Homo sapiens: one gene and its partners. The protein of the gene in region 1 interacts with the protein of each later gene in a biochemical or structural test. Each region holds a gene or a part of one and is shown in the gene's direction. Other genes may lie near its edges.

Region 1 (7,109 bases):
CGGGGAAGGGAGGGGCTTCGGTGGGGCGGGGCCCTGACAGGCCGAGCTCGCGGGCGACTGCCGGCCAGGCAGACGCTGCAGCTAAGCTGCGCGGTGGCTGTGGCAGGTGAGAGCCTCCGGAAGGGAGGCGGCCTCTGGCCCCGACCCTGCTCCGCGATCGCCCACTCGGGCGCCCGGCCGGGCCTGGCAGGGAAGGGCCGCCGCCGCCGCCGCGCGTTTGCGAGGCCTGGCGGGGCCGCGGGGCCCAGGAATGGCGTAAGGGGCCCCCCCAGACTCCGAGACGGCCCGAGCGGGTCGCCGGCTGTGGGACGGCGGCGTGCCCTTCCTTTCCTCCCTCCCAGGTTCGCGCCCGAGCTCTGCTAGCCACCCGTCCGACAACTTCCGGACTCCCAGGTAGGGAGGAGCCCCTGTTAGCACTGCCAGTTACCCCGAACACTTGGCCGTTTTGGAAGGGCCGGGACTCCCTCCCCTGCCTTGTGGGTGCATCTGCTCAAACTCTGTCGGCCCCTCAAGCAGAAATGGTGTGGGATCTGGGCCAAACCCCTCTTGGAGTGACTCAGAGCCGCCAGCCCTACTGGAGGGATGGGGCATGGGGTGGATGGCCCCTAGCCTTTCCCTTCTGAGCTGGTTTGTATCACCCCGGTGGCTTCAGTCCTGGTGCCTTCATCTTAGCTCCTGTACTTTGCCTCTCCCACCCCACTGGTTTTCCTGCCTCCCTCTTCAGAGGTAAGACACATGGCTGGACCAAGGCCTCCAGGGTAAGTGACCCGAACTTCAAGCCAGCAGAGGCCATGTCATCCTAAGCTAGGGATAGGGGAGGCTCGCCGGGATGAGCCTTTGGCTTAACCTAACCTCTGCTCCCTACTTCTGCCTCACCCCAGTCTCAGATGACGGGAGGCCAATGCCAAAGACGGATAGGATCTATAGAGGCAGTCCTCTTCTAGGACTGGGACACAACAGTGCATGAGGCAACTGACAGGGGTGATGTAAAGCTGTTGTGTCTCCATCCTGGTTGCCCCAGTTCTAGCAGGTGATGTGACACTACGGTGGTCGCTGCCCAGATTGAGAAGTGGAAGGGGGTGTTGCTGGCCGCTAGAAACACTCATAATTCCACTGAGTTTGAGGCTCTGGTAGGGGCGCATGTGGGCATGGGAAGGAGCCCTGCACTCTGAGCACAGCCTCTCAGATGTAACGCAGTGGCTCTGGGAGGTCAAAGTCTCAGCCCAGTGGGAGCTCTGACAAAAGGAGGAGAAACCCCCCCAGTAGACATGTGGCTCTGTCTGATCCACTCCTGCCGCCCCTTCTGGCAACTTCCCTGGGGAGGGAGGACCTGCTTCCCAGCAGGACCTTCATCGAGTCACTGTAGGGGCAGGTAGAGTGGGCCAGGGAGCCACAGCTGAATGGCACTCAAGGGCCATCACTAGGCATTGCCTCTCCATTCCTGAGTGTGGGGCAAGGGTCCCTGCTGAGTTTTACTCTTAGCAGTGGGCTTCCAGATCCCCATGCTCCTGGGTTCTTGACTGCCTCCCTCTTCAGAGGTAAGACACATGGCTGGACCAAGGCCTCCAGGGTAAGTGACCCTCACCAGCTGCCTCTCTGTGTCCCTTACCTCCTCAGGGACAGCCCTGCCATCAAGGAAGACAGCACAGGACTGGGACCCACCCATGAACCCTTCTCAGGACAACCCAACAGCACCAGTGGGGATGTTCTCCTAAGCCGCAGAGGGCCTGGGCACGCCATCCGTCCTCCAGGAAGAGCCATGGTGTTAATGCAGGACAAGGGCAGCTCTCAGCAGTGGCCTGGTCTGGGGGGCGAGGGTGGTGGCACAGGTCCCTTAAGCATGCTCAGAGCTGCCCTGCTGCTCATCAGCCTGCCATGGGGGGCCCAAGGGACAGCCAGCACCAGCCTCAGCACTGCTGGGGGTCACACCGTGCCACCGACTGGGGGCCGCTACTTGAGCATTGGAGATGGCTCTGTGATGGAGTTTGAGTTTCCTGAGGACAGTGAGGGCATCATCGTGATCTCCAGCCAGTACCCAGGCCAGGCCAACAGGACGGCGCCTGGCCCCATGCTCAGGGTCACCTCCCTGGACACAGAGGTGCTGACCATCAAGAACGTGAGTGCTATAACCTGGGGAGGCGGGGGTGGCTTTGTGGTGAGCATCCACTCAGGCCTGGCTGGGCTGGCCCCACTCCACATCCAGCTCGTGGACGCCCATGAGGCCCCGCCCACACTGATTGAGGAGCGGAGAGACTTCTGCATCAAGGTCTCACCTGCTGAAGACACGCCTGCCACCCTCAGCGCCGACCTGGCCCACTTCTCGGAAAACCCAATCCTCTACCTGCTCCTGCCTCTTATCTTTGTCAACAAGTGTTCGTTTGGGTGCAAAGTGGAACTCGAGGTTCTGAAGGGGCTCATGCAGAGCCCCCAGCCCATGCTGCTGGGCCTCCTGGGCCAGTTTCTGGTCATGCCCTTGTACGCTTTCCTCATGGCCAAGGTCTTCATGCTGCCCAAGGCCCTGGCTCTGGGCCTCATCATCACCTGCTCGTCGCCTGGCGGCGGGGGGAGCTACCTCTTCAGCCTCCTTCTTGGAGGGGACGTCACCCTGGCCATCTCCATGACTTTCCTCTCTACGGTGGCTGCCACTGGCTTCTTGCCTCTGTCTTCGGCCATCTACAGCCGCCTGCTCAGCATCCATGAGACGCTCCACGTGCCCATCTCCAAGATCCTGGGGACCCTGCTGTTCATTGCCATCCCCATAGCCGTGGGCGTGCTGATCAAGTCCAAGCTCCCCAAGTTCTCCCAGCTGCTGCTGCAGGTCGTCAAGCCCTTCAGCTTTGTGCTCCTCCTGGGCGGCCTCTTCCTGGCCTATCGCATGGGGGTCTTCATCCTGGCAGGCATCCGGCTACCCATCGTACTGGTGGGTATCACGGTGCCCCTGGTTGGCCTGTTGGTGGGCTACTGCCTAGCCACGTGTCTGAAGCTGCCAGTGGCCCAGCGGCGGACGGTCAGCATTGAGGTAGGGGTGCAGAACAGCCTGCTGGCCTTGGCCATGCTGCAGCTATCCCTCCGCCGCCTTCAAGCTGACTATGCCTCCCAGGCCCCCTTCATTGTGGCGCTGAGCGGCACCTCCGAGATGCTGGCCTTGGTCATTGGCCACTTCATCTACAGCAGCCTGTTCCCAGTTCCCTGAGGCCTCTGGGTCAAGCTTTCATCAGCCCCAGCCCCCACACTCCACCAAAGTTCTCATGCACTATGCACTCAGAAAAATCCAGGCTTATTTTTTTTACTGATTTTTTATTCTCCAGCTTTCAGTGCCAAAGAGGCCATGCTGAGTTAGGTAGGTGGGCGCTGCCCAGAAAATATATTTCAATAAAAGAGAGAAGCAAGCTTGGGTCCCTTCTACTCTTTGCCCTTTGGGGCCTGGGCGTGGGGGTAGAAAGAGTGTGCTGGGTAAGTGTGGACCAGGGTGGAGGGCCAGCTTGGGTGACACGGTGACCCCTGCATAGGCTTTCCCTATCAGCCCTCCCCGGGGGTGTCCCCACTCTGGGAGAGGTGGGAGGATGAGGGCAGAGGCGTAGCCCCCCTGCCCCCTCTCAAGCTCAGTGGAGCGTTTCGCAGCCAGACCAGAAAGGAGGAGGTAGGAAGCCACCAGACAGGGAGCGGGGGCGGGCCGTCTGTGGGTATGCAGGGCCAGGCGCCGCCAGCAGTCCTGGCGCGTGAGGTGGGCCAGGCAGTCCGCGGGGGCGAGCGTACCTTCTGGCCCTCCCTTCTCCATGTCCCAGCTCCCAGATGACGCCAACCTGGCCCGACTGGTTCCTGCTCCCAACTCCCCCGCGTCGTTGCTTTGGGAGGGGTCCGCCGGCCAGGGCGGTCGATGCGCGCATGCTAGGCGGGACCCCGGGGGGACTCCTCCCGGGGCGCAATTGGGCCGGGGGGCGGGGCCGGGGCGCGGACGGGGCAGGAGGGCGGGGCCGGGAAGCGCGGGCGGCGGGCGCGCCCCTCTCGCTGCTTCCGGCGGCGGCGGGCGGTTCCAGCGCGCGCCCGGGGCGGCGGCGCGCGGCGGGGGGTGGTTGGGGTGCGCGCCGGCCCGAGTGGACGCCGTCGCGACCGCCATGCAGCTGACGGTGAAGGCGCTGCAGGGCCGCGAGTGCAGCCTGCAGGTAGGGTCCCCGGGCCGGGCCGCCGGGTCCGGCGCGCTCTCTCGCCCGCTCCTGGCAGGGGGACCGGCAGGGCCGAGGGCGGGCACGGGGCGGCCGGGCCGAGGGCCGGGAGCCGGGAGAGCTGCCCTCGGGGGCGGACGCGTGGGCTTCGCCGTCTGGGGGCCGCGGGCTCAACCCTTGCCTCCCACCCTCCGCGCGGCCAGGTGCCAGAGGACGAGCTGGTGTCCACGCTGAAGCAGCTGGTCTCCGAGAAGCTGAACGTCCCAGTGCGCCAGCAGCGGCTGCTGTTCAAGGGCAAGGCCCTGGCAGGTACCCAGGGAGAGGAGACGCCCGGGGAGCCCCGCAGGAAGCGGGACCGGGGTGCGCGGGCCGAGGCCAGCAGCCGTGTGTCGGGTCGGGGTGCGGGCGCCAAGCGCCACATGACCCCAAGGGAGGCGGCCGCATGCCTCACAGCCGGATGCCGCAGCGCTCCGCTCCCGCCGCCCGAGGCGGCCTCGCGCCCCGGGCCACCCCCACGGCGGTGGAGGAGGAGGAACCCATCGATCTGTCTTTGGCAGATGGGAAACGACTCTCGGATTATAGCATCGGGCCCAACTCCAAGCTCAACCTAGTGGTCAAACCCCTGGAGAAGGTGCTACTAGAAGAAGGCGAGGCCCAGAGGCTGGCCGACTCCCCACCCCCGCAGGTCTGGCAGCTGATCTCCAAAGTCTTGGCCCGCCACTTCAGTGCGGCAGATGCCAGCAGGGTCCTGGAACAGCTACAGAGGGTGAGAAGGGTAACCCTGGGCATCCTCTTCAGGCCCAGTTGCTCCCAGCCCCTACCTCTGTTGCAGTGTATGCCCCCCCACCACTGGCAGCCCCTGAATCTTCCTGCCCTTCTCTCCCCAGGATTACGAGAGGTCCCTGAGTCGCCTGACGCTGGACGACATCGAACGGTTGGCCAGCCGCTTCCTGCACCCTGAAGTGACTGAGACAATGGAGAAGGGCTTCTCCAAATAGAATTCTCGGAGCATGGGGAGGTGCCCAACGCCAGGCTACCGCTGCATGTCGCACTAAGTGTGTTCTCCTGTTGCAGTTGGGCTCATCATCATCATAGCTGGCATGTACCTGGCTCTGGCCAGGTGCTAGGCACTCCTCACAGCTTGACCTGGGTTTGCTTCCACACCCTCAGAAGAGGAGAGCCGGCACAGCAGAGGCACCGGCGATGAAGTGGCACAGCCCCAGTCGGAATCCAGCGGCTTCTGAAAGTGCCTTGGTGTGAGAAGGAGGAAGGGGCCGCTTGGAGAGCTGGGCTCTCGCATGTCATGTTTAGCCCACTGAGAATATACCCTCAGGTGACTCCCTCCCGATCCTGAAAGGGAAAGCAGCTGTCACCTGACTTCTGGCGGGTCCAACATAGCCCTCAGCTTACCTCTGCAGGAGGCCAAGTGACAGCCAGCCCTGGAACCCCCCGACCCCCGCAGCTGCTGCAGCCAGTGTGCCAGTGTGCGTTCGACAAATGGAAAAGCAGATTGGGGCCAGGGAGTCAGCAAGGCACCCCAGCTCTGTGATGTGACTTTGGGCGAGTCTCAGTGCCACTTGGTCCCCAGCCATGGACTCTATACAGTGAGGGCCACTCACCGACCTGAGTCAGTGTCCTCTGTCTCACAGGGCCCCTCTCCCTTCTGTTCAGTAAACAAACTGAAGCCAAAAATGAAGCCGTGGCCAAGTGTGACCCAGAGATGGGGTGTCCTGGCCCTTAGTGACACAGCTCCTCTCTGGGGCACCCTATCTGCTTGTCTCGTCCAGGAAGCGTTAGGGCTGATGGGTGACTCAGCAAGGCAGTGTCAGAGCTGGGACTGGGCGTAGGCCTTTGTCCTCATCCCCAGCACTGGCCTCCCTGTGGAAGATGAACATATCCCAGCCACCTGTGTACAGGGGCTCACTTTGTGTGCTCCTTGTTGCCTGAGAAGAAACCTTGGGGTGCCAGGGTGGGGGCAGAAGCATGGACTGGGTTCCGGTTCATCCTCCTCCACCCTGCCGTGTGTGTGGGCACAAGAGGACATCTAACCACCTGCTCCTTGGAGGAGGCCCCCAGGGGTGGTAGAGGCTGGAAGGAAGCCACATCAGGAGGACGCCACTCCGGCCCTTCACCCTTGCCAAGTGAGCTGCTCACAGTGTGGTCAGGGCTGCGCGTGCTGGAGGCCCTCCTGCCTGGGCCTTGTGGGGCAAATATTGGGTCCCCAGGCTGGAAAGATGGACAGAGGCCCAATGGGTGAAGGCTTTGAAGAGCACACAGAAGCCCCTGGCCCCCCACGAGAGCTGGAGAGCCATGTATATGGCTTCAAAGCCACCTACGGCAGGGACACACTCGTGAGCATGTGTGGCCTGCAGTTCAGGTGATACATTTACCAGTGTTCTTGTTTGTGTGGTGCCAGGAAATTGATTTTGGAAAAAGTGAAATAACATTAAAGGTGAATGTGAGGCTTCTACTTTTATCCAAAAGGAGCTATATTAGCTAGGCTGTTTCTGATATCCAATCATTGGTTTAACAATAAAGGCAATTTGTTTAATCAGTTAACGGAAATTTCTTGGCTTATGAAAGTGAAAAGTCCAGTGGTATTGGCATTGGCAGCAGGTGAGCAATTTCACCCAGTGTCTTCTGCCTCCCTCTGCGTTGGTATCTGCTACATCCCAGGCCACCACCTCCGAGGATGAAAAGATGGCTGCCTGCAGCTTCCACGGAATCCCTCCCTCACTGCCAGAGCAGCATCTTCTCTGTGTACCACCTCTGCTGTCTCAGATGCCCCCAGCAAATAAACACTCTTCTCGTTGGTCAGAACTGGATTGTGCGTCCAATCATTTTGGCTGGGGTAGGGGGTAATTCTCCGTCAGGGCTGGCTCCCTGGAGCTAGGCATGGGGCCACTTCCCTGGACACACATGGGCTATGCAAGGGACAGAAGGCTC
Region 2 (7,000 bases), on another chromosome or scaffold:
GGCTGCCCTTAAGTGTTCTCCCAAAGGAGGGATGGCATGAGGTACTAAACAGACCCTGAGGTGATCTCAGGGATCTTGCTTTCTTAAATTACTCTCCTCTATCCCCTTTCTTTCTTCTTTAAAATTATCATTTGCTTTTAAAAGTAGAGGGAAGAATGACTTGGCAAGGGTAATATGGTAAACGTAGTGAATCAGAGGCAGAAGCAGCTTTACATTGAATTGGAGTTCCTTTTCATTTGCTCTCAACAAGTCATCTGTACTGTTTTTATCAAGGTCCTTTTGGCTTTTTGGAGTCATTCAGAGTAATGTGATACCCCACACTAATCTCTGGGTTGGGGACAGCCAACTCTTCCATTTTGTAAGCATTAAGATTTGGCGTTTAGGTGTAAGGATATTCATCATTTAGAGTTTTGTTTTGTTTTGTTTTGTTTTTCAAGTTTTCTCATAGACTGTTGAAGAAGGCCTTGGTTTTGCATTGGTATCCCCAGGTTGCCTTTCATCTCTTGGCCCCTCTCGCCGGTTTTCTTTTCCTTCTGTTTAACCCATTCCACCCTGCTGCAGTGCCACAAAACCTTTACTTCAAAGCCAACACCAAGCATGGAGAACATTTATCTTTTGGTTGAAAGATTTTTCCATTCCAATAAATATTAAAATATTCTCTCTGTATATATATATTTATATTATTAGTTCCTTATGATGAGACTTTTTTGTGACCATCCACACTCCTACCCCTACCTCCTATTTGTTTGGCAGGGCAGAATCTCTGGGTGCTGGGTTTTACTATTCACGGTAACTTCAATTTCTAGAACAGTTTTCTTCAAGGCTGTCAAAATAATGTCGGAAATGAGGTACTTGGGAAGGACCTGCAGTTTACGAGGTTAATGTAGTTTTGCACATACAGTACAAAGTATACACACAATTCAGTTAAGGATGAAAGATAAGGTGGCCTGCTGGAGGGTGCGTATTGGGACAAGAACTGTGACTTAGCTGGTGAGCTGGTGCCTCTCTTTCCGGTCCTCATCCCTAACACCCACTCCCCAGAACAGTGTGCCTTTTCAGATATTCCTTATCTTGCATTGGGAGAGAACCAGAAAGGCTCAGTCACTGGAAATGATGGCTGAATTCCTAATATGAGATTTTTAGAGCTGCTTTTATTTTTCAGCAGGAAGAAATAAACTTCCTTTCTCTGATTTGTTTACAGGTTCTAGTAAATACCGCTTGCTGTGTTTTGATGTTGGTGGCTAAGCTCATCCAGTGTATTGTGTTTGGCCCTCTTCGAGTGAGTGAGAGACAGGTAAGTCTACACTGAAAGGATGGATTCTTGTGACTAGATTTTTTTTTTTAAACTTTGTATTATGATTTCAGATGTGTGGAAAAGTTCCATGAATACTACAGAAAACTCCTATATACCCTTTATCCAGATTCGCCAGTTGTTAATATTTTGTTCCATTTGCTTTAATCTTCACTTTTTATTTATACATACTTTTTTTTCTGATTCATTTGAGAGTAAGTTGTGGACATCATTACCCCTTTACCCCTAAATACTTCAGTTTGTATTTTCTAAGAGCAAAGGCATTTTTACAGCACAGTGATTAAAATTAGGAAATTTAACATTGAAAAAATACTTTGTCTAATCCACAGTCCATATTCAGTGTAGCCAAGTTGTCCCAATATTGTTTTTTATAGCTGTTTTTCTTCATGACTTTTAGGAATGTCGTTTTTAAAGAAGCCTAGATTTGTTTTATTTTGAATGATCATAAATGTCACTCTGTAGAATGTGGGTTCTTTTCCAAAAGAATTTACCAAGATAATTTTCTCTGTGGGAAGGTGAATTAAGAATCATTGTTCTAAAAGCATAAAATTAGGAGATTTGTTCTTGTTTTGGGTGAGATTGTCTGACATTGGAAAGTGACTCAGAATGGGCAGGGGATGCTTTCAATGAAGAATTACGCCACAAGCATACTGTATAGATTGGCAGTTCGCTGAGGATTTGAGTGGGTAGGGTGTAGAATAATTTTTTTTTTTTTTTTTGAGTCGGAGTCTTGCTCTGTCACCCAGGCTGCAGTGCAGTGGCGCAATCTCAGCTCACTGCAACCTCTGCCTCCCGGGTTCAAGCACTTGTCCTGCTTCAACCTCCCAAGTAGCTGGGAATACAGGTGTGCACCACAGCTAATTTATATATTTTTAGTAGAGACAGGATTTCGCCACGTTGGCCGGGCTGGTCTCAAACTCCTGACCTCAGGTGATCCGCCTGCCTTGGCCTCCCAAAGTGCTGGGATTACAGGCGTGAGCCACTGTGCCTGGCATGGTATGTTTTAAAGTAAAAATTTAGAACTGGCCTTCAAAATCACAACATAAGAACAAAATTGTGTTTTATTCTATCTTATCCCAGTGATAAAACACAGGAACCTACTATATGAAAAGCACAACAGCAGCTTTACTTTATGTTCAGAGTGTTCCATTCTCTCCTTACCTACCCTTTTCAACCCAAATTTCCTTTTATAAAATCAGCTGAAGTCCTAGTTTAGAGCTGACATGTATTACTTGGTGGTTGAGCCCTTGGATGCCATTGTGAACAGGACTATTTTGTATTCTCAGAGATTTTTCATTTTCAGCACTTTCTCCAGTATCGACTCTAGAGGTCTCCCAGATAGGTTGTAAATGCTGCCTTTTTTTTTTTTTCTTTTGAGACAGCGTCTTGCTCTGTCACCCAGGCTGGAGTGCAGTGGTGCGATCTCCACTCACTGCAGTCTCAACCTCCTGGGCTCAAGCAGTCTCCTCCCATCTCAGCCTCCTGAGTACCTGAGACTACAGGCATGTGTCACACCTGGCTAATTGTTTAGGTGTTTGTAGAGACGGAATTTCACCATGCTGCCCAGGTTGGTCTCAAACTGTTGAGTTCAAGCAGTCCGCCCGCCTCAGCCTCCCAAAGTGCTGGAATTATAGGTGTGAGCCACTTCTACTGGCTTAAATGCTTCTTTTGATACTTCTTCAAGTTTCTCTTCAAATTTTTTATTTGTGGACCAGAAATTGGTCAGGCCAGGCAGGCTTGGTGGATTGATCTGGCACCAGTGGGCTTTATATACTTTCTTTTCCCTAAAAGGTTACTTCTATCAGGTTGAAATTTATAGAAAGTATAACCTTGGAGTATTTTAGAGATTTTTTAACTAGATCCAGAGGTAATTATAATGAGCATATTTCTTATCCAGCTCCACTTTAATTTTTTTCAGCATCGATCGCATCTTCCCTGCTGTTCTGTGTTGGTTTATTTATGTTTAATGTCATCCAGTAGCATCAATTAGGAACCATTTTGAGTTAGAAATCTCTAGGATTGACATGGGTTTGCTCTTGGGTGCTTAAAGTTCTAGAAATAGAGTAATGCTAGAGGCAAAGACATCGAATATCTAAAATGATTAAAATGTTAAGTGGAGGTTTAGAGCAAGGAAGCTTTTTGATGCGTTTTTAAGTGCTTAGTGCCTAGTATGGCACTTGTCTAACCATTTCACATATATTATGTATAATTCCCCCAACAATTCTATGAGGTATATGCTGTTATTATAAGACCTATTGTATGGATGAGGAAACTAAAGCACAGGGATGTTAAGTGACTTTCCCAAGGTCACACAGAAACTAAATGGCAGAGCCAAGTGGCAGTGTCATTCAAAACCAGGGCACAAAATGTCCTAAGTTCACCTTGTACTTTCCCTGCACCAGGTCTGGAAACAGACATTTCACCAACGATTCCTAGTTCACGTTATTGGGCAATGATATTTAGAAGCCAAGCTGTATACTGGCTGAGTGTGCTCATTACCACTAGGGTGTCTCTGCCCTTTTGATGGATAGAATTAGGGCATACTCTATGATTTTTTTCCACTTTATTTTGTTCTCTACAAAAGATATCTGGTCAGAGTACAGTGTGTTTAAGTTCTCAAAATCTTTAAGGAGTCACGTTGTTAATTTGTAGTATATTTTGCTTTTTTGTGTTTATTTTTTGAATTTGTGAAACATTTACATGGTTCCAAATTACATATAAAAGCATTCTTTTGGGAGACCAAGGTGGGATCACTTGAGCCCAGGAGTTTGCGACCAGCCTTAGCAACAGAGGGAGGCCCCATCTCTGCAAAATATAAATATAAAAAACATTAGCCGGGCATGATGTCATGTGCCTGTAATCCCAGCTACTCAGAAGGCTGAGGTGGGAGGATCGCTTGAGCGCAGGAGTTTGGGGCTGCAGTGAGCTACTACTGGGCCACTGCACTCCAGCCAGGATGACAGAGTGAGACTCTGTCTCTTTAAAAAAAAAAAAAAAAGTATACTTAGAATCATGCTTCCATTCTTATCCTCTTCAGTCAGTTCTCCCTGACCCCCCTAGACGGCTTGATAGTCTATTTTAACATGTGGGGGAACTAGACCCTCCTTATTGCTCTCCTATTTCAGGGTTAGTGAAGATTGTTAAAACTGGAAGCCCTCTGTGTAAAAGAGTACAGTGAAGCAAATATGCATACACACTGCCCATGGGAATGTACACTTACAGGACTGCTTTGGAAGTTAGGTAGATTTTACTATAAACCATAAAAATCTTTGCAATTTTTGATTTGACAGTGCTGAAGTAACTCATACAAAGATACATACAAAAATATTCATCACAATTTTTTTTTTTTTTTGAGACAGAGTCTTGCTCTGTTGCCCAGGCTGGAGTGCAGTGGCATGATCATGGCTCCCTGCAACCTCGACCTCCCAGGTTCAAGCAATTCTAATGCCTCAGCCTCCCAAGTAGCTGGGATTACAGGCTTGTGCCACCATGCTCAGCTAATTTTTGTATTTTTAGTAGAGACAGGATTTTGCCATGTTACCCAGGCTGGTCTCGAACTCCTGGGCTCAAGTGATCCGCCTGCCCTGGCCACCCAAAATGCTGGGATTTCGTGCATGAGCCACCACGCCCGGCCCTCATTATAATGTTTTTTTTGCGTGGTGAAAATTTTAAAACAGTTTCAGTGTCCATCTTTAGCCATTGAAACGGTATATTGGTATATTCAGAGAATATTCATTGACATTGTTAAGGTTCTAACAATACAATAGGTGAAAGAAAGCATTGTACAAAAAGTAATGTGTTTTGTACATAGGGAAAAGACAAGAAAATTCATAAAAATGTTAAGGCAGCATTTTTCATTTTCTTTGTACTTTTTATGCCGCCTTTATTATGGGCTGGCAAGTGGTTGTGTTGTGTTATTTTTTAATTTGAAGAATTTTTTTTACAAAGTCTAATCTTTTCTATTGTGTAAGAATCTGGAAGGTAGAAGTAGTAAAAATGATAGCCCTTGCCATTCTTTTTCATTGTGCATTAAAAATGTAAGCATTTTTTTCTTTTTTTTGAGAGAAGGTCTTGCTCTGTCACCCAGGCTGGAGTGCAGTGGCATGATGATGGCTCACTGTAGCCTTGACCTCCTGGGCTCAAGCAATCCTCCCACCTTAGCCTCCTGAGTAGGTGGGACTACAGGTGTGCACCACCATTCCCAGCTAATTTTTGTATTTTTTTTTTTGGTAGAGATGGGGTTTCCCCATGTTACCGAGGCTCATCTCAAACTCTTGAGCTCAAGCTGTCTACCCACCTCAGCCTCCAAAAGTGCTGGGGTTACAGATATGAGCCACTGCGCCTGGCCTATTTCTTAATATATAAGTTACTAAACTAATATCGCTATCCTTTGAATAGCTAACATTCCATAATTGATTTAGGGTTATAGTCCAAAGTTTACAGATTAGTTTCTGGGTGTCTTACCTCCATTCTTCAGATGGCTGCTTTTTTTTTTTTTTTTTTTTTTTCTGTTTTCTTGAGGACAAGTATTAGAAAGCCAAGTGCAGAATATATCTTCCATAGAAGCCGGCTTTTGTTATGGTAACTTCCCTCAAATGGGGTAGGTGTGATGGTACTCACCTTCATAAACATTTTTCTTTTTTAGCATCTCAAAGACAAATTTTGGAATTTTATTTTCTACAAGTTCATTTTCATCTTTGGTGTGCTGAATGTCCAGACAGTGGAAGAGGTGGTCATGTGGTGCCTCTGGTTTGCCGGACTTGTCTTTCTGCACCTGATGGTTCAGCTCTGCAAGGATCGATTTGAATATGTGAGTTTTTAGCCAAGCTTTTTGCTTGCTTAGTCACCACGTTTGCCAACTTTGAATTGTGTAATGTGAATGAGCCACAGCAGGCATGGTCAGGGTAGCTCTTCTGGGAAGACTTCTAGATCAGGCCCCCATTGCCTGTTTCTTGAAGAACTTTCTACAGCAGCCAAGAGATGCAGAATCGTTGTCTCCTGGGGAGCTTTCTTCCCAACCCCATAGTGTTTACTTACTGCTAACATGGGGTCACTTCACCTATGCAGACTGTTTTGTTCACAGTGCAAGGAAACCTTGATACATAAACAATAAAATCTGGTCTTTTCTAGATATTTTCTGTTCTAGTCTCCTTCTGTCTCTCCCAGCTTACTCTGGTTCGTGGAGCTCTTCTTTCTGAGTAGTTTATACTATTTCCACCCCGGGCCAGGACTGAATTAGCTCCCTCAGCTTCCTTGTTTGCGAAGTGAATCATTTTATGTCTGGTACAAGATCTGTCACTTGGTTTCAGATCATAGCTGTATGAGTGAACCTTCAACCCATTAGTGACCTGAAGTAGTCTCATGAGTCCCAGATAAATGTGCATCTACAGTGCTGCCCCTCAGTTAAACCCGCTCCAGGGCCTTGTTTTTCCCTGTCTTTACCCAGTCCACATGGACCTTGCACCTTGGTTTGAGTTAATCTCACTCTCACAGCCTTTATTTCTTTCACATTCAACCCTCATTTGAAGTCACAAACAGGAGCTTCTAACCTCCCAAACTGTTTTTTTTAATCTCCGCCTGTGACCTCAGGAGTTGCAGCTCTAGGCCTTCTTTTCAGACTGTTGCCTCTCCTTGCATAATGCTGACATCACGTTGTAGTAGTGGTAAACCTGTGCCTGGATTGCATTT
Region 3 (7,150 bases), on another chromosome or scaffold:
CCGCCTGGGACGTGGTCCGCCTGGGACGTGGTCCGCCTGGGACGTGGTCCGCCTGGGCTTGGTCTGCCTGGGACGTGGTCCACCTGGGCTTGGTCTGCCTGGGACGTGGTCCACCTGGGCTTGGTCTGCCTGGGACGTGAGAATGAGCTGTCAACACACCTCTCTGCCCCGGAGGGAGTGGCGCGTGTCATTCCTTTAGGAGTCCTCTCGTCTCATGTTTGCCGAGGCCCCCAGGGTTCACGGGGACGGGATCCTGAATTGAAAAAGGGGCTAAGAGAGCTCACGGAACCAAGCCCACACCTGTCGAGGTCCCTGGTGAGAGGAAATGGGAGAAACGGTGCCGTCTGTGGAACCAGGGTGGCCGGTGGGGCCTGGGGCAGGGTGCAAGTGTGTGCATTTGTGTGCAGCAGTGTCAGTGCCCACTGGCCGATTTGATCAATGTGCTACTGCCTTCAGGGAAGAGCAGCCTGCTTTTTGGTGTGTTTGGGATAAAGGGGTGGCCGGGCACTCTGGCTCACACCTGTGATCCCCACACTTTGGGAGGCCAAGGTGGGAGGATCCCGTGAGCCCAGGAGTTGGAGATCACTCTGGGCAACATAGCCAGATCCTATCTCTACAAAATAAAAATTTAAAACGATTAGCCTCACGCCTGTGATCCCAGCACTTTGGGAGGCTGAGGTGGGCGGATCACCTGAGGTCAGGAGTTGGAGACCAGCCTACTTAACATGGAGAAACTCCGTCTCTACTAGAAGGACAAAAATTAGCCGGGCGTGGTGGCACATGCCTGTAATCCCAGCTACTTGGGAGGCTGAGCCAGGATAATCGCTTGATCCTAGGAGGCAGAATTTGCAGTGAGCCCAGATCATGCCACTGCACTCCAGCCTGGGCGGCAGAGGGAGACCCATCTCAAACAAAACAAAACAAAACAAAACAAAACAAAAAAGATGGGGTCTCCATCTGTGGCCCAGGCTGGAGTGCAGTGGTCCGATCTCAGCTCACTGCAACCTCTGCCTCCTGCTCAAGTGATCCTTCTGTCTCAGCCTCCTGAGTAGGTGGGATCACAGGTGCCCGCCACCACACCTGGCTAATTTTTGTATTTTTAGTAGAGACACGGTTTCACCATGTAGCCCAGGCTGGTCTTCAACTCCTGGACTCAAGTGATCCTCCTGCCTCAGCCTCTCAAGGTGCTGGGATTACAGGCATGAGCCACTGTCCCCGGCCTAATTCTATTTTTGTAGAGACAGGGTCTCACTATGTTGCTCAGGATGGTTTTGAACTCCTGGTCTCAGGCGTGAGCCACCTCGCCCTGCTTAGTTTGATACAAAATCCCTACGTTCCTTCTCATTCCCACTGTGTTTCCAGCACCTGCTTGAGCCCAGCACACAGTAGACACTCGGCAACTGTTGGTGCATTTGGGAATCTACTGAACACCTACTGGTGCGCTGGGTATTGGCCTCACATATGGGGAGACGCCATTAATAACCCACAGATGTGAGGATGGCTGTGGGGGATGGAAAGGGGGCTCTGAGAAGTGGGGTGCAGTGGTGGATGGGGCAGCCTCCTAAAAACCAGGGGAAAGGGCCGGGCGCGGTGGCTCACGCCTGTCATCCCAGCACTTTGGGACGCCGAGGTGGGCGGATCACCTGAGGTCAGGAGTTCGAGACCAGCCTGGCCAACATGGCGAAACCCCAGCTCTACTAAAAATACAAAAATTAGCCGGGCGTGGTGGCGCATGCCTGTGATCCCAGCTACTCGGGAGGCTGAGGCAGGAGAATCGCTTGACCCCTGGAGGCGGAGGTTGCAGTGAGCTGAGATCGCACCATTGCACTCCAGCCTGGGCAACAGAGTGAGACTCCATCTCAAAAAAAAAAAAAAAAAAAAAAAAAAGCAGGGGAAGGAGAGGGGACTTGGGGAAGGGCACAGCCTTGCAAGGCCCAGAGGTGGGAACCTGCTTAGCCCACCCAAGGGGGCCAGTGAGGCTGGGGAGGGGTCAGCGAGGGGCAGGTGACTCGGGGCAGGCAGCAGAGCACAGAGAGGGCTGAGGAGGTGCCAGCGGTCCTCATGTCTGCTCCGAGCCAACGGAAAACCGTCAGGTTCTGCCGCCTTCTCAGAGGTTAGGCCACTTGCCTAGGGACACACAGCCAGTTCGTGGTTTGGCGTCGTTTGAACCAGGCCTGCTGCTCCTCCTGCACTTGCGGAGCGTGAAGGCTGGTGCAGGGGCTGCGTCTGGCAAGCCTCGCCCCTCCCCAGCCTGGGGTTTTCCTGGATTCCCAGGGACGGGGCCCGTGCGCTCTCTGGTGGTCAGAGCAGGAATGACTGGATTCGCGCTGCTGCAAAGACGACTGGAAGGAGGCTGAAGCCCCTGTCCCCAACCTCTGGACATTCAAAACCCTAAATGCAGGCCGGGCGCGGTGGCTTACGCCTGTAATCCCAGCACTATGGCAGGCCGAGGCGGGCGGATCACCTGAGGTCAGGAGTTTGAGACCAGCCTGGCCAACATAGTGAAACCCCGTCTACTAAAAATACAAAAATTAGGCGGGCGTGGTGGTGCCCAGCCTGTAATCCCAGCAACTCGGGAGCCTGAGGCAGGAGAATCACTTGAACCCGGGAGGCGGAGGTTACAGTGAACCGAGATTGCGCCATTGCACTGCAGCCTGGGCAACAGAGCCAGACTCCATCTCTAAAAAACAAACAAACAAACAAAAAATCTAAATGCACAGGCTCCAACTCTTAATTCCTCAACAGTCTCGCTCCAATGCCTCATTTTGCAGGAAGTCCAACTCCAACCAAATCCTATTCATCCCTCAGCCCTGGTTCCAATGTCCTTACCCCTCGGAAGCCCTCTCTCTCTTTCCCCAGGCAGAGCCAGAGTCACCCTTGAGTTCCACGCTCCTGTCCAATCTCATGGGACTGGGGGTATCTGCGTGCATTCAGCATAGGGTCTGGTGTGCAGTAGTTGCTCAATGAGTGTTGAGTGAAGAAAGAAATACACGCATGAGGCCGGGCGCGGTGGCTCATGCCTGTAATCCCAGCACTTTGGGAGGCCGAGGCGGGCGGATCACGAGGTCAGGAGTTCAAGACCAGCCTGGCCAAATATAGTGAAACCCCGTTTCTACTAAAAATACAAAAATTAGCCGGTGTGGTGGCGGGTGCCTCTAGTCCTAGCTACTCGAGAGGCTGAGGCGGGAGAATCGCTTGAACCCTCGGCAGGCGGAGGTTGCAGTGAGCCGAGATCGGGCCATTGCACCCCAGCCTGGGTGACAGAGTGAGACTCCGTCTCAAAAAAAAAAAGAAAAAAGAAATGCATGCATGATTGGGCCAGAACTAACCTCAGAAATGATCCTGGCCTGTGCTGGGTGATGATACCGTTTCTACTGATTAAATTTGGAAGCAGGGGTTAGGTTTCCTGCCTTCTCCGCACCCGAGAGGCGCCTGGGCCGTCAGCCCGTGGAGCATCTTGGAAACAAGGCCACAACCCACAGACCTCAGCCTCTGTCTGACCCCACGGGTCCCAGTGAGGCCCAGACAGCGCCCTGAGCCCCGGGTCTGCCTGTATTCCGCAGCGCTGAGGGAATGCCTGCTGTGTGTCAGGCGCTGCTGCGGGTCCAAAAATCCCTTTGCTGCGCAGCTGACCTGACAGTGCATCGGGAGGGAATCAGTGCCACGGAGCAGGAGGGCAGCAGAGAAGACCTTGTAAGCTGACATTTGAGCAAAGACCTGGAAGAAAGCCACGCGGGCGTCGGGAGAGCGCTGCACCGGGCAGCGGGCGGGGGAGAGGGCGCCTGGCGAGCCCCAGGAACGGTGGGGACAGTGGGCTGAAGTACCGTGAGGGGAGACGGCGATGAGGTAGGGAAGCACTGAGGGACACGAAGGCCTGGGCAGCTTCGGGAGGGGAGGAGGGCCTCGGCCCCGCCCCGCGCACGCCCCGCTTCTCGTCTCTTCCGCCGCCTGCTTTGGCCCCGCCCCCGCCGGAAGCCCCGCCCCCGCTTGGAGCCCCGCCCAACGGCCGGGCCTAGTTTGTCTCTCAGCGGCCACCGTCGCCCGGGCCGCTGCCCGCCGAGTACGCAGCTTTCGCCGCTCCCGCGCCCCCGCTCCGCCCCGCGTGCCGTGCGTGCCGTGCGTGAGCGTGCGCGGGCGCGTCGGCCGGCGAGGGAGCAGCAAACGGCCGGCGGCGGGTGCCGCGCGGGGGGCGGGCGGCGCGGAGTAGGTGGCGGCGGCCATGGCCGAGGCGTCGCCGCATCCCGGACGGTACTTCTGCCACTGCTGCTCCGTGGAGATCGTCCCGCGCCTGCCGGTGAGGCCCGGGCCGGGGCGGCGGGCGGCAGGGTCTGCGCCGCAGGCCTGAGGCAAGGCCGGGGCCGGGGTGGGGGTCGCTTGCGCCCGCCTCTTGCGCGAGCTGACCACGACGGGAAAACTGAGGCTCGGGGCAGCGCCGGCCCAGGCTGAATCCGCGGGGAGCCCGGGCGGTGCGCGCGCGAACCCCGTCCTGTACATGCGGGAGACTGAGGCCCGGGCGGGAGGCAGGGCCTGGCCGGAGCGGCGCAGCGGGATCGCGGCCGGGTGACCCCACATCCGCGGCGTTCCCGACCCGAGAGGCCGCGAGGATCCCAGGTGGGATCCCTAAGCCCGGTGAGCCTGGTTTTGCAAACGGAGAAACTGAGGCCCGGCGAGCAGAGAGAGGGTATTGCCCGGTGGCGCGGCGCGGGGCAGGGGCTGGGCCTGGCGGGGCTCGGACCCCGAGAATAACGCCAGGGGACCCCCGCCGAGCGCGTGGTTGGGGGCGCCGGCGCCTCGCTGCAGGCTCGCCTCGTGGAGCCCTGGCCGCCGCCTTGGAGGCAGGCCCAGGCCCGGAACGCCCCAGGCACTGTCCCGGGGTCCGACCGCGGCCCGCCGGCGGGGCTTTGTGAGCAGAGCCTGCGTTCCTCCCCTCCCGGGGCTTGGCTGCGCAGCCCACCCTTCCTCCAGGTGTTTACAGCCGCCCCTCACCGAAGAGGACCCTGGGCCTGGGCGTGCCGAGTGCTACTTCCTGCTCGTTTAGGGCAGTGTTTCCCACGCGGACCTGATGTCACCTTGGGGGAGGTGGGAGCAGCGCTCGTTGAAGGTGCTATTTCCAGGCCCCTTTTCCAGGGTTTCGGAGTCAGTAGGTGTGGAATGCGCTCAGCAGTCTGCATTTCTAATATTATTTTTAGGAATGGGGTCTCCCTGTGTTGCCCAGGCTGGTCTTGAACTCCTGGGCTCAAGCGATTCTTCTGGCTCAGCCTCCCAAAACGCTGGGATTACAGGTGTGAGCCACCGTGCCCGGCGGTGGTCTGCATTTTTAACCCGTGTTGCCCTTCGCCAGGCTGACGTGCAAAGTGGTGATTTAGTCGAGCCACCCGTGCTTTATAGATGGGGAAACTGAGGCGCGTGGTGGCTCAGCGGGAAAGTGGCAGAGCCGGCTCAGTCGGGAGCCGCTTGGCCAGCTTGAGGGGAGCAGCCGCAGGAGGTGGAGGGGTCTGGACTCCCCACCCTGTGCCCAGGGGAAGAGGCTGCAGGCATTGAGGATTTACTGTGCTGTGTACGTAGCCGCCCGGCTGTTGCTACGCTTTGACCCGTAAGAGAAGTCCAAGCCCCCCAGAAGCAGTGCAGTTCCCCGGGAGTAGAGACCCAGGAAGGGGCTGGAGGGAGTCAGGAGAAGCCGCCTGTCTCTGGGTCACAGAGGAGGAGCGAGTGCTAGAGTTGGGGCATGGCGGGAGAGCGGGGCCAGGCCCAGGAGTGGAAAGAGAGAGGTGTGGTTTCCTCTCTACTGAAGCCACAGGGCTTCCCCTCCCCAGCAGGAGGAACAAATAAAGTGAAATCTCGGGTGTGGGGCGAAGGTTGGGGAGCTGAGACTGAGCCTTGCCTTACTCCTCTGTCTCCCAGGGGTCTCGCTCTTGCCTCTTCCAGCTTTCTGTCCCCACTGGCCGTGGCAGGAGAGGCTGGTTGCCTGACAGCCCGCCAGCCTGGGTGAGTTGCAGGGCAGCCCCTTGCAGCCCCTTGAGCCCTGGGACAGGCCTGGGAAGCCCCTGGGAAGCCTGGAGTGGTGGCTGTGGGGGGCCGACACTGCCTTGACTCGGCTGCACATTTAGCTGCTCCTAGAGCCCGCACAGGACTGGATCCTGGTGTGGTGGAGCCACTTCCTCGCCCCGTGGCCTTGGACACGGAGGACCTTGACCTCCTCCGACTGTCACTGGGCCTGGGGAGGGCCTTCCTGTAGTGAAAGGAACTCTGTGGTGACAGGCCGCTGTGGTCTTTGCCCTCACAGAATTTACAGGCTGGCCAGGGAGCCAGCATGGAACAGTGATTGACAAATATTTAATCATGGACGTTGGTAGATTCCTTAAGAGCAAATAACTGCAGAGAGGGCTGCGGGGGCCTGCCCGTGTCCACCCCGCGGGTGATCCCAAGGGCATCTGCTTGTGCCTTTGGAGCAGGACGCAACAAGGCGCCCGTAGACAGCATGGCAGTGTCAGAACTTCTCCGTACGTGGCAGGACCCTGTCTCTACAGAAGACTAAAACAATTAGTGGGGTGTGTTGTTGCACTCCTGGAGTCCCAGCTACTGGCGGGGGCTGAGGTGGTGGGAGGAGCGCTTGAGCCTGGGAGGTGGAGGCTGCGGTGAGCCGTGATGGTGCCAGTGCACTCCAGCCTGGGTGACAAGCAAGACGCTGTCTCAAAAACGAATTTTTTATGCTGGGAAATGGGCACACCTGGCGTTTGTTCTGGGGAGGGACGGCTGCTCCGTATCTGGCAATGGGGAAAGTCCCCAGCCACAACCAGTGCCCTCGAAACGGGGCGTCTCTGCCGCTGGGGAGCTTGCCCGGCGGCTGAGTCAGGGGCGGCACTGCTGCTGCTGAGACACCTGGGCTGGCTGTCGGGAAGCTCCTGCCTGCCTCTGACGCAGGGGGGACTGGCTGCCATGGGCTGTGTGCCTGCCCACGAGGGCTTCTCCCAGGCAGCTGGGCCGTTCCGGGCCTCCTTTGCTGTCCTGGGCTCTGGGATCAGGCTGAGGCCCCGCGCAGCTGGGTCATTCTCTGCTGGGCAGCCTTGGCCTCAGTCTCCTCACCTGCCAAGTGGGTTTAGTGATGCGATTCGCTCCCCGTGGCATCTGGTGGGCACGTGTGTGCAGAGTG
Region 4 (7,992 bases), on another chromosome or scaffold:
CTGGGATTCTGGCAAGAAACATTAACTCTCAGGCTTCCCACCTGCAAAACGGGAACAATTCAGGGTGCAGAGAACAAGAACTGTCTAAGAATTCAGTGAGGTATGAAGGCAAAACATCTTGTATCCTGAATACCACCAGAAAGTTTTCAAGAGGTAGCTGTTATTACAGACCATGCTCTCCTGTCCAAAAAGTCTTGGGGCCGGGGACATTTTAACATTCAGAATTTCCCCCCATTGTAGAACAGTATTAATAGAGTCCAAGTGCCATGTATTCCAAATCACTAGGGAGGCTGAGGCAGCACTCCGAAATCAAATTACTCTTTCTGCAGTGAGATGCAGGAATACGCACCAGGGTGTCTCTCTGTCTGCACTGTGGCCATTGGGGCCGGATCGTTTTCTGGGGTGGAGCTGTCCTGGGCACTGCAGGGTGCTGAGCAGCGTCCCCGGCCTCCATCCATTCCATACCAGGAGCGCCCCCCAACTGTGACAACCACAAATGTCCCCAGACACCGTCCAGTGTCCCCAGAGGTAGCACAATCACCCCAGCTGAGAATCAATGATATTCGCTAAGTGGGAAAAAGAAAGGCTCTCAGTCGGTCAGTTGAGGTCATTTTCTGGCCAAATGACTTTGCTGTAAACTTAAGGCAAACCTTTCAGTTTACAGAGTATTTAGGATTTTAGAACTGCAAAAAAGGGACTGTGGATCTACATTAAACCGTGGGGTAAAGAAGAGCTTCAGGGGCTCAGAAAGGATGGAGATGGATGGGAACTGGAACTGTCAGAAAATTCTCCTGCAGGAGTTAGGATTTGAAAAACTTGTGGACGTCAGTTCATCCTGTAAATATTTACTGATTGTGCCAAGGATCCAGTAGCAAACAAGGCAGACAACATTCCTTCCTTCCCAAGGCCTGAATATCCCTGACTATCATTATTACAATTATCACCCTCATCGCAATGGGCTGGACAAAGAGCTGGGGGAGTGTGGCTGGGCAAGAGAAAAGCCAAGGATCAGGCAAGGAGTTGCTTCAACAACCTGAGTGACCTTCTAAAACCCAGGCCGGGCACGGTGGCTCATGCCTGTAATCCCAGCACTTTCGGAGGTCGAAGCAGACGGATCACTTGAGGTCAGAAGTTCGAGACCACCCTGGCCAAGATGGTGAAACCCCATCTCTACTAATAATACAAAAATTAGCCAGGTGTGACGGGCGTGGTGACTCACGCCTGTAATCCCAGCACTTTGGGAGGCCGAGGCGGGTGGATCACGAGGTCAGGAGATGGAGATCATCCTGGCTAGCACCGTCTCTACTAAAAATACAAAAAAAATTAGCTGGGCGTGGTGGCAGGCGCCTGTAGTCCCAGCTACTCAGGAGGCTGAGGCAGGAGAATGGCGTGAACCTGGGAGGCGGAGCTTGCAGTGAGCCGAGATCGCGCCACTGCACTCCAGCCTGGGTGACGGACCAAGACTCTATCTCCAAAAAAAAAAAAAAATTAGCCAGGTGTGGTGGTGGGCGCCTGAAATCCCAGCTGCTTGGGAGGCTGAAGCAGCATAGCTTGAACCCGGGAGGCGGAGGTTGCGGTGAGCCTGTGTGAGCAGAGATTGCACCACTACACCCCAGCCTGGGAGACACAGACTGTCTCAAAAAATAAACCAACAAATAAATAAATAAACAGTACACAGGTCACATCGCCCCTTTGCCTCTAAATTAAAAGGGTCTTGGCTGGGTACAGTGGCTCATGTCTGTAATCCCAGCACTTTGGGAGGCCGAGGCAGGTGGATTGCTTGAACCCAGGACTTCAAGACCAGCCTGGGCAACATGGCGAAACCTCGTTTCTACAAAAAATTAGCCAAGTGTGGTGGTGCAGGCCTGTAGTCCCAGTTACTCAGGTGGCTGAGGCGGGAGGATTGACTGAGTCCAAGAGTTCGAGGCTGCAGGGAGTCGTGATCGCACCACTGCACTCCCGCTTGGGAGACAAAGTAAATAAATAACAAAATTAAAAGGTCCCCTCGTTACGTTCCAGCCAAACTGACTTTCTGCTCTCCAAACACGTTCCCTCCTCCCGGGACGCCTCCTTCCCCGGTCTTGGCAGGACACTTGCTTCTCCCAATCAAGCAAGTCGACGCTCACCTCTTCAGAAAAGCCCCCCAGGAACCACCCTCTCTCTAAAAACGTGTCCCTGGGACTGCCCCGTTCGTGTTTATCTGCACCAGAGCACCGATCCCTCCCTATCTTCGATCCTCTCTTATTTAATTTTTGAATGTCTGTCTGTGGCTCTAGAATTCCAGGAAAACGGGACTGGAGTCGTTAAATCACGGCCTCCCCAGGGTCCGCCACGGGGCCCGACCCATCCGGAAGGGAAGCGCCATCAACTTTGCAGAATGAATGAAGCGCTGGAAAAGCTGGTTCATTCATTCGGCAAACGAGAGAGCAGGGTCGTCCACCTCCCCCGCTGCCCCTCCAGCCCGGCCGAGGGTGGCTCGGGGGTCGCTTCGCTCCAGCCTTAGGCCCAAGTCGCGACCCCGGGAGGAGCGAGGGTGCAGGGGACGCCCGGGTCCGGCGAGCGGGGTAGTCGGTACCTGCGGGGGGCTTCATGGCGGGTGGGTCTGCGCCTGCGGCTCCCTCCCTCCTTCCACCTGCTACGCGTCCAGCCACCTCGGCCACTGAGGCCGCCTGCCTCGGCCCAACCGCCGCCACCGCCGCCACGGCCGCCTGAGGACCAAGGGGCCCGCCGCCCGCGCTCCCGGGGCATGCTGGGGCGGCGCGCGCACAGGGAGGGCAGGACGCACGCGCCCCTGAGCCCCGCCCACAGCTAAAGGAGGAGGGCCGGGAGTGCGCTGGAGCCCTCTGCGCACTCGCCGTAACCCTCCCGGTCCGTTATTGGTCTCGGCGGTGCGTGGGCGGAGCCTCTTGCTCTACCATTCCAGAGCCGCTGGGGTGGCTAGGACGGACGGTTTCCTTGGAAACCGCGCACGCCGCTGACGCCTCTGAGCCTCTGCGCGGCTCATTGCGCTGAGACTTCGCTTGGGCTTCAGGCTACCGCGTTAATGTGTACTTGCCTCGCTTCTTATAGCTGTGTGTTGGGCCAGTGTTATTATTGATCGCTTACTGTATATCCCAGGCCCACTTTCCAGCATCTGAATCCGACGAATCAATTAAATTAACCAGAAGTTTTGGTGCTTTGGTTGTTTTTGAGACGGAGTCTCGCTCTGTCGCCCAGGCTGGAGTGCAGTAGCAGCAATCTCGGCTCACTGCAACCTCCGCCTCCCTGGTTCAAGTAATTTTCCTGCCTCAGCCTTTCCAGGAGCTGGGACTACAGGCGCCAGCCCCCACCCCGGCTAATTTTTGTATTTTTAGTAAAGAGGGGGTTTCACCATGTTGGCCAGGATGGTCTTGATCTCTTGACCTCGTGATCCGCCCGCCTCGGCCTCCCAAAGTGCTGGGATTACAGGTGTGAGCCACCGCGCCGGGCCAAGTTTTTTTTTTTTTTTTTTTTTTTGTCAGAAACAAAAGCAAGTAAACGGATTCATGTCAAATAACAGGTGTTGTGGAACAGTGCAGTAGCCTGACCTACATGCAGTGTTGTGGGTTAAAACAAAAAACATCTTGAACCATCTGTCTTGAACTGTTAGGGCACCCAGAAAAAACAATGTACTACAATTAAACTGGCAAAAACCAAAACAACCGACCTCCTTTCTTCCCTTTTTTTGTTTTTGTTTTGTTTTCTTTTGCTTTGGAGGGGCTGGAGGGAGTCTCGCTCAGTCGCCCAGGCTGGAGTGCAATGGCGCGATCTCGGCTCGCTGCAACCTCTGCCTCTCGGGTTCAAGCGATTCTCCTGTCTCAGCGTCCCGAGTAGCTGGGACTACAAATGCCCGCACCACGCCCGGCTAATTTTTGCATTTTTAGTAGATACAGGGTTTCACCGTGTTGGCCAGGCTGGTCTCGAACTCCTGACATCAAGTGATCTGCCCCCTGGCCTCCCAAAGTGCTGGGATTACAGGCGTGAGCCACCACGGCCGGCCTCACCTCCTTTATTTCTGCAAAAGAAATTAAAATAATCCACGCCATTAATCGTGCATGTATTTTGAGTAGGACGAAAATGAATTGGGAGAACATTTCTGGCAACTGTAACTTAGATGGTGATCAGTTTTCTGTCGTCCTTGGAAATGTCTCATCACATGTCTTGAGCAACACCAAGATTAATTTTACATCGGCGTTCATTTTCGCTGTTCCCTGTGCCTGGGGTCCGTTTGGACTTTCCTATCCTTGAAATCCAAATGTAAAGGATGATCTTTCCTACCCATCCCATGCGACTTAGCTCCCAGTGACAATCACACTACCTTCATTTTTTTTTTCTTAGTGTTTGCTGTGAAATTTGTTTCTCTATTTATGTACTAGTTTATTAGTTTATAGTCCGTCTACCCCAATGCAAAATAATGAGAGTAGACACTTTGCTGGTTTTTATGGCTGCTTTGCAATAAATATTGAATGAATATTAGGCACCTGCTGTCTACAAATGGCTCTATACTCACAAACGTCTCACACTGCATGAAAGAATGCATTTGTGGGTGAGTAGATGGGTGGGTGAATAAATGAACAAAGATAGTAAGCGGGTAACACTGACTCCCATTCATTGCGCAGCTGTGACGCTCTGGAGTCCAGGTGTCCAAACGCGGCTGCACCACGTGGCCGGCCCAGCACCACGTGGTCAGCTCGGCGACCGGCTGGAGTCAGCCACTGTTCCACCGTGCACCGCTTCATTCCCGCTCTAGAGGGCAAACCAGACCCGATTTCCGGCCTCCATTAGGTCGCAGAGGTCAGTTGCCCTAACAACCAGCTGGTTCCCGCCTCTACGTTGCGTCACTTCCTTCCACGCCCGCCTCCATCATTAACGCGCCTGTGCAGAAGGGAAGCAACTCCGGGCGCCTTTCTTTTGCGCAGGCGTCGCGCCCTGGGGCCGGGGCCGGGCGGCACCGCGGTGCGCAAGCGCAACCGTCGGTGGGTCGGGGATCGGTCGCCTGAGAGGTGAGTGAGGGGCACTGCGCTGAGCCTGGTGGGTCTGGGGTCTGCGGCTCGGGGCCCACGGGGCCCCAAAGCTCGTAAGAGTTTGGGGATCGTGAGGCCAGGGTCACCGCGACCCGCGGGGTCCTGTGAGTAGGCGGTGCGGAGGGGAAACTGAGGCCGGGCGCCATCGGGCAGGCCCTTCGAGCCCTGATCTCCCTTCCCCAGGCCCCAGGTCCTGGAAATGCTGGTCCGCGGCCTGGTGGCGAGGACGGCGGGAGGGGAAGGCGCCCCGCATGTAGTGAGCGCTCGCTGGGTGTTCGCTGCCGTTCCGCTCTTATTAACCGCCTGGAAACGTCGTCCCTGTGACTCAGGGACCCCCGTTTGTGGGGACTGAAGTCGGAACTCTGGTTCCAGCGCCGCCAGTCCCTACCTGGGTGACCTTGCCCAGCCTCTTGGCTTCTCGGAGCCTCAGTTTTCCCCTCTGTAAAACGGGCGTTGTTCAAAAGTCCCTGCCTAGGAGAAGGAGAGCCGCAGGGTCCAGCGGAATCTGAGAACTCCAAAGAATTAGCAGGCGTTCGTCTTATATCATGTTTAGAGTCTTCTTCTGCATATCGTGCTAGAGGTGGGGGAAATCTGGGATTCAGGACCGTCCACCACCACCTCCCACCCGCTGTGTAAACCTGGGTGAGTCGCCTTCCCTCTCTGAGCAAACTGTTCCTTCTTTCGCAAACGAGTTGTAAAAGCAGATGCCTCGGAGGGTCATTATGAGGATAAACCCACATTCAATTATTTGATCAGGTGCCTGGAACTTGATAAGAGAGAGCTGGCTTGAGAATAGCTGTTTTTGTTATTAGGTGCCAGAAAATTGCAGTGTAGTGTGCCCTTCAGAGGTTGAATGATTGTCCCATTTTCTTTTGTTTCTGTCTCTGATTATTCCTTTTGTCTGCCTTTTCCCTCCCTTGACCAGTGGTTCTCAACCAGGAACAATTCTGTGCCCCAGGGATTCTTGGTGACATTTGTGCTTGTCATGATTTGGGGGACCCCCTGGTTTGGAGTTGGTGGAGGCCAGGGTTGCTGCTCGGCACCCTGCAGTACCCAGGACGGCCTCACCCCAGAAAATGATCCAGCTTTAAATGTCAATAATGCTTTAAAAACCCTACCATACGGGCTGATGACCTGAGGTCAGGAGTTCAAGACCAGCCTAGCCAACGTGGTGAAACCCCGTCTCTACTGAAAATATGAAAATTAGCTGGGCATGGTGGTGTGCACCTGTAATCCCAGCTACTCAGGAGGCTGAGGCAGGAGAATCCCTTGAACCCAGGAGGCAGAGGTTGCAGTGACCCAACATCATGCCACTGCACTCCAGCCTGGGCGACAGAGCGAGACCCTGTCAAAAATAAAAAAAAAAAATCTACCCTAGATCAGTGATTCTTCACCAGCATGGGCAGCTGGGACTGTGTGGGCCCGGGAAATCGTGTACAAAGTTTTGTGTGTGCACCCAATTTCGTGCAGAGAGAAATGGGTACTTTGGAGTTTAGCTTCTCAAGTCAGACTGCCTGGGTTCAGAACTCCTCATTTTCATCCTCGGAGCTGGGTGGTCTCGGGTGGTCCCCATCTTTCCAAGCCTCAGTTTTTCTTCTGTGGAATGGGGATTATAATAGTAACCACCTCAGGTGTGTGAGGATTAAACCAGGCAAGGTATCAGCAAACTGACCAGAAGGCCAAATCCACCTCTGGCCTGTTTTTGTGAATGAAGGTTTGTAGGAACACAGCCACACTCCTTGGTTTATGCGTTACCTGTAGTTGATTTCGAGCTAAGAAGGCACAGTTGAACAGTTGCCATAGGGAACTTAACGCCTGCAGAGCTGAAGACAATCTGGCCCTTTTCAGAAAAACCTTTGCTGACCCCTAAAATAAGCTATCGCATGTACAGCACTTAACTGGGTGCCTGGAAAGCTGTAAGCACGCCAAGGATTTGAGCTGAGGTTTATAATTAAATCTTCCTAGAAGGGTGAATGATTCCAAATGCGGGTGAGCTCTGCCCCAGATTGGAGGATCCTTGAGAGCTGTCGTCTTACTCAATTCTACATTTTTTCTTTTTTATGCCAAGACCCAACAGTGGCTCTGGTAGGAAGTGCTCAGTACAGGCTGAAGGAACAAAGGGGTGGTTTGAGATAGGGTCTTGCTCTGTCGCCCAGGCTGGAGTGCAGTGGCACAATCTCTGCTCACTGCAGCCTCGACCTCCCAGGCTCAGGCCCTCCCACCTCAGCCTCCTGAGTAGCTGGGACTACAGGTATGCACTACTACACCCAGCTAATTTTTGTATTTTGTTTTAGAGATGGGGTTTCACTGTGTTGCCCAGGCTGGTCTCAAACTCCTGGGTTCAAGTGATCCTCCACCTTGGCCTCCAGAGTTCTGTGATTACAGGCGTGCCCCACTGCACCTGGCCCGTTTTCTCTTTTACTGAGGTGGAAACAGAGACCCAGAGAGAAATGGCCTCCCCAAGGAACGTGACCATGTGGCTGTGAATTTTTCAACAATCGCAGGCTTTCCTGAGTCCATAGGGTTTAGACGCTGCCAGATGCTGGCGTTCAAAGGGAAGATGGGTCTGTCAAGAGATAGAAAGCCTTGTAAGAGATGCTGGGCCAGAGATAGGAGTTTGCAGGAATACTAGATTCTCTCCTGGCGGAGTTGGGCAGGGGAGGTGAGCACTTGAGTTTGAGTGGCATGTACAGGGTTTGGTGTAGGCCCCACAGATGACCCCCAGCTGGTGAGAGGCCTCCTATGCACACTCCTGGGGTTGCAAGGAGCAGTTGAGAGCTTTTATGTGTGCAGCGATCTCCTGGTGGCATTTTAGAAGGAAGTAGGCTTCGATGTGGGGAGTGGGCAGGAGACTGAGCTAGAACTCGGGTATCCTAAGAGGGAGTGAGGAGCAGGGCACCCGGCTCTCCTGCCCTGCTGTTGGTGAGAAGCACCGTGGATTTGGGATGGA

What was found.
Region 2: of the proteins of UBL4A (region 1) and AMFR, one has a biochemical effect on the other in vitro, tested with the Homo sapiens proteins (one study listed by BioGRID).
Region 3: the proteins of UBL4A (region 1) and RNF126 form a complex in vitro, tested with the Homo sapiens proteins (one study listed by BioGRID).
Region 4: the proteins of UBL4A (region 1) and SGTA form a complex in vitro, tested with the Homo sapiens proteins (3 studies listed by BioGRID, with this or other methods).

What each region holds. Positions count from the first base shown.
Region 1 is NC_000023.11:154,483,591-154,490,699, reverse strand, and holds UBL4A (ubiquitin-like protein 4A), read left to right. Parts: upstream 1-4,084; 5' UTR 4,085-4,115; coding exon 4,116-4,163; intron 4,164-4,366; coding exon 4,367-4,472; intron 4,473-4,720; coding exon 4,721-4,929; intron 4,930-5,050; coding exon 5,051-5,161; 3' UTR 5,162-6,983; downstream 6,984-7,109. Other genes in the region: SLC10A3 (P3 protein), read left to right, coding at 590-726, 1,618-3,193. UniProt on the Homo sapiens protein: As part of a cytosolic protein quality control complex, the BAG6/BAT3 complex, maintains misfolded and hydrophobic patches-containing proteins in a soluble state and participates in their proper delivery to the endoplasmic reticulum or alternatively can promote their sorting to the proteasome where they undergo degradation.
Region 2 is NC_000016.10:56,408,546-56,415,545, reverse strand, and holds part of AMFR (E3 ubiquitin-protein ligase AMFR), read left to right. Parts: intron 1-1,201; coding exon 1,202-1,294; intron 1,295-5,957; coding exon 5,958-6,122; intron 6,123-7,000. UniProt on the Homo sapiens protein: E3 ubiquitin-protein ligase that mediates the polyubiquitination of lysine and cysteine residues on target proteins, such as CD3D, CYP3A4, CFTR, INSIG1, SOAT2/ACAT2 and APOB for proteasomal degradation.
Region 3 is NC_000019.10:660,191-667,340, reverse strand, and holds the start of RNF126 (E3 ubiquitin-protein ligase RNF126), read left to right. Parts: upstream 1-4,126; 5' UTR 4,127-4,219; coding exon 4,220-4,294; intron 4,295-7,150. UniProt on the Homo sapiens protein: E3 ubiquitin-protein ligase that mediates ubiquitination oF target proteins. Depending on the associated E2 ligase, mediates 'Lys-27'-, 'Lys-29'-, 'Lys-48'- and/or 'Lys-63'-linked polyubiquitination of substrates.
Region 4 is NC_000019.10:2,780,262-2,788,253, reverse strand, and holds the start of SGTA (small glutamine-rich tetratricopeptide repeat-containing protein alpha), read left to right. Parts: upstream 1-4,980; 5' UTR 4,981-5,021; intron 5,022-5,506; exon of another isoform or gene 5,507-5,684; intron 5,685-7,992. Other genes in the region: THOP1 (thimet oligopeptidase), read right to left, coding at 2,576-2,591. UniProt on the Homo sapiens protein: Co-chaperone that binds misfolded and hydrophobic patches-containing client proteins in the cytosol. Mediates their targeting to the endoplasmic reticulum but also regulates their sorting to the proteasome when targeting fails.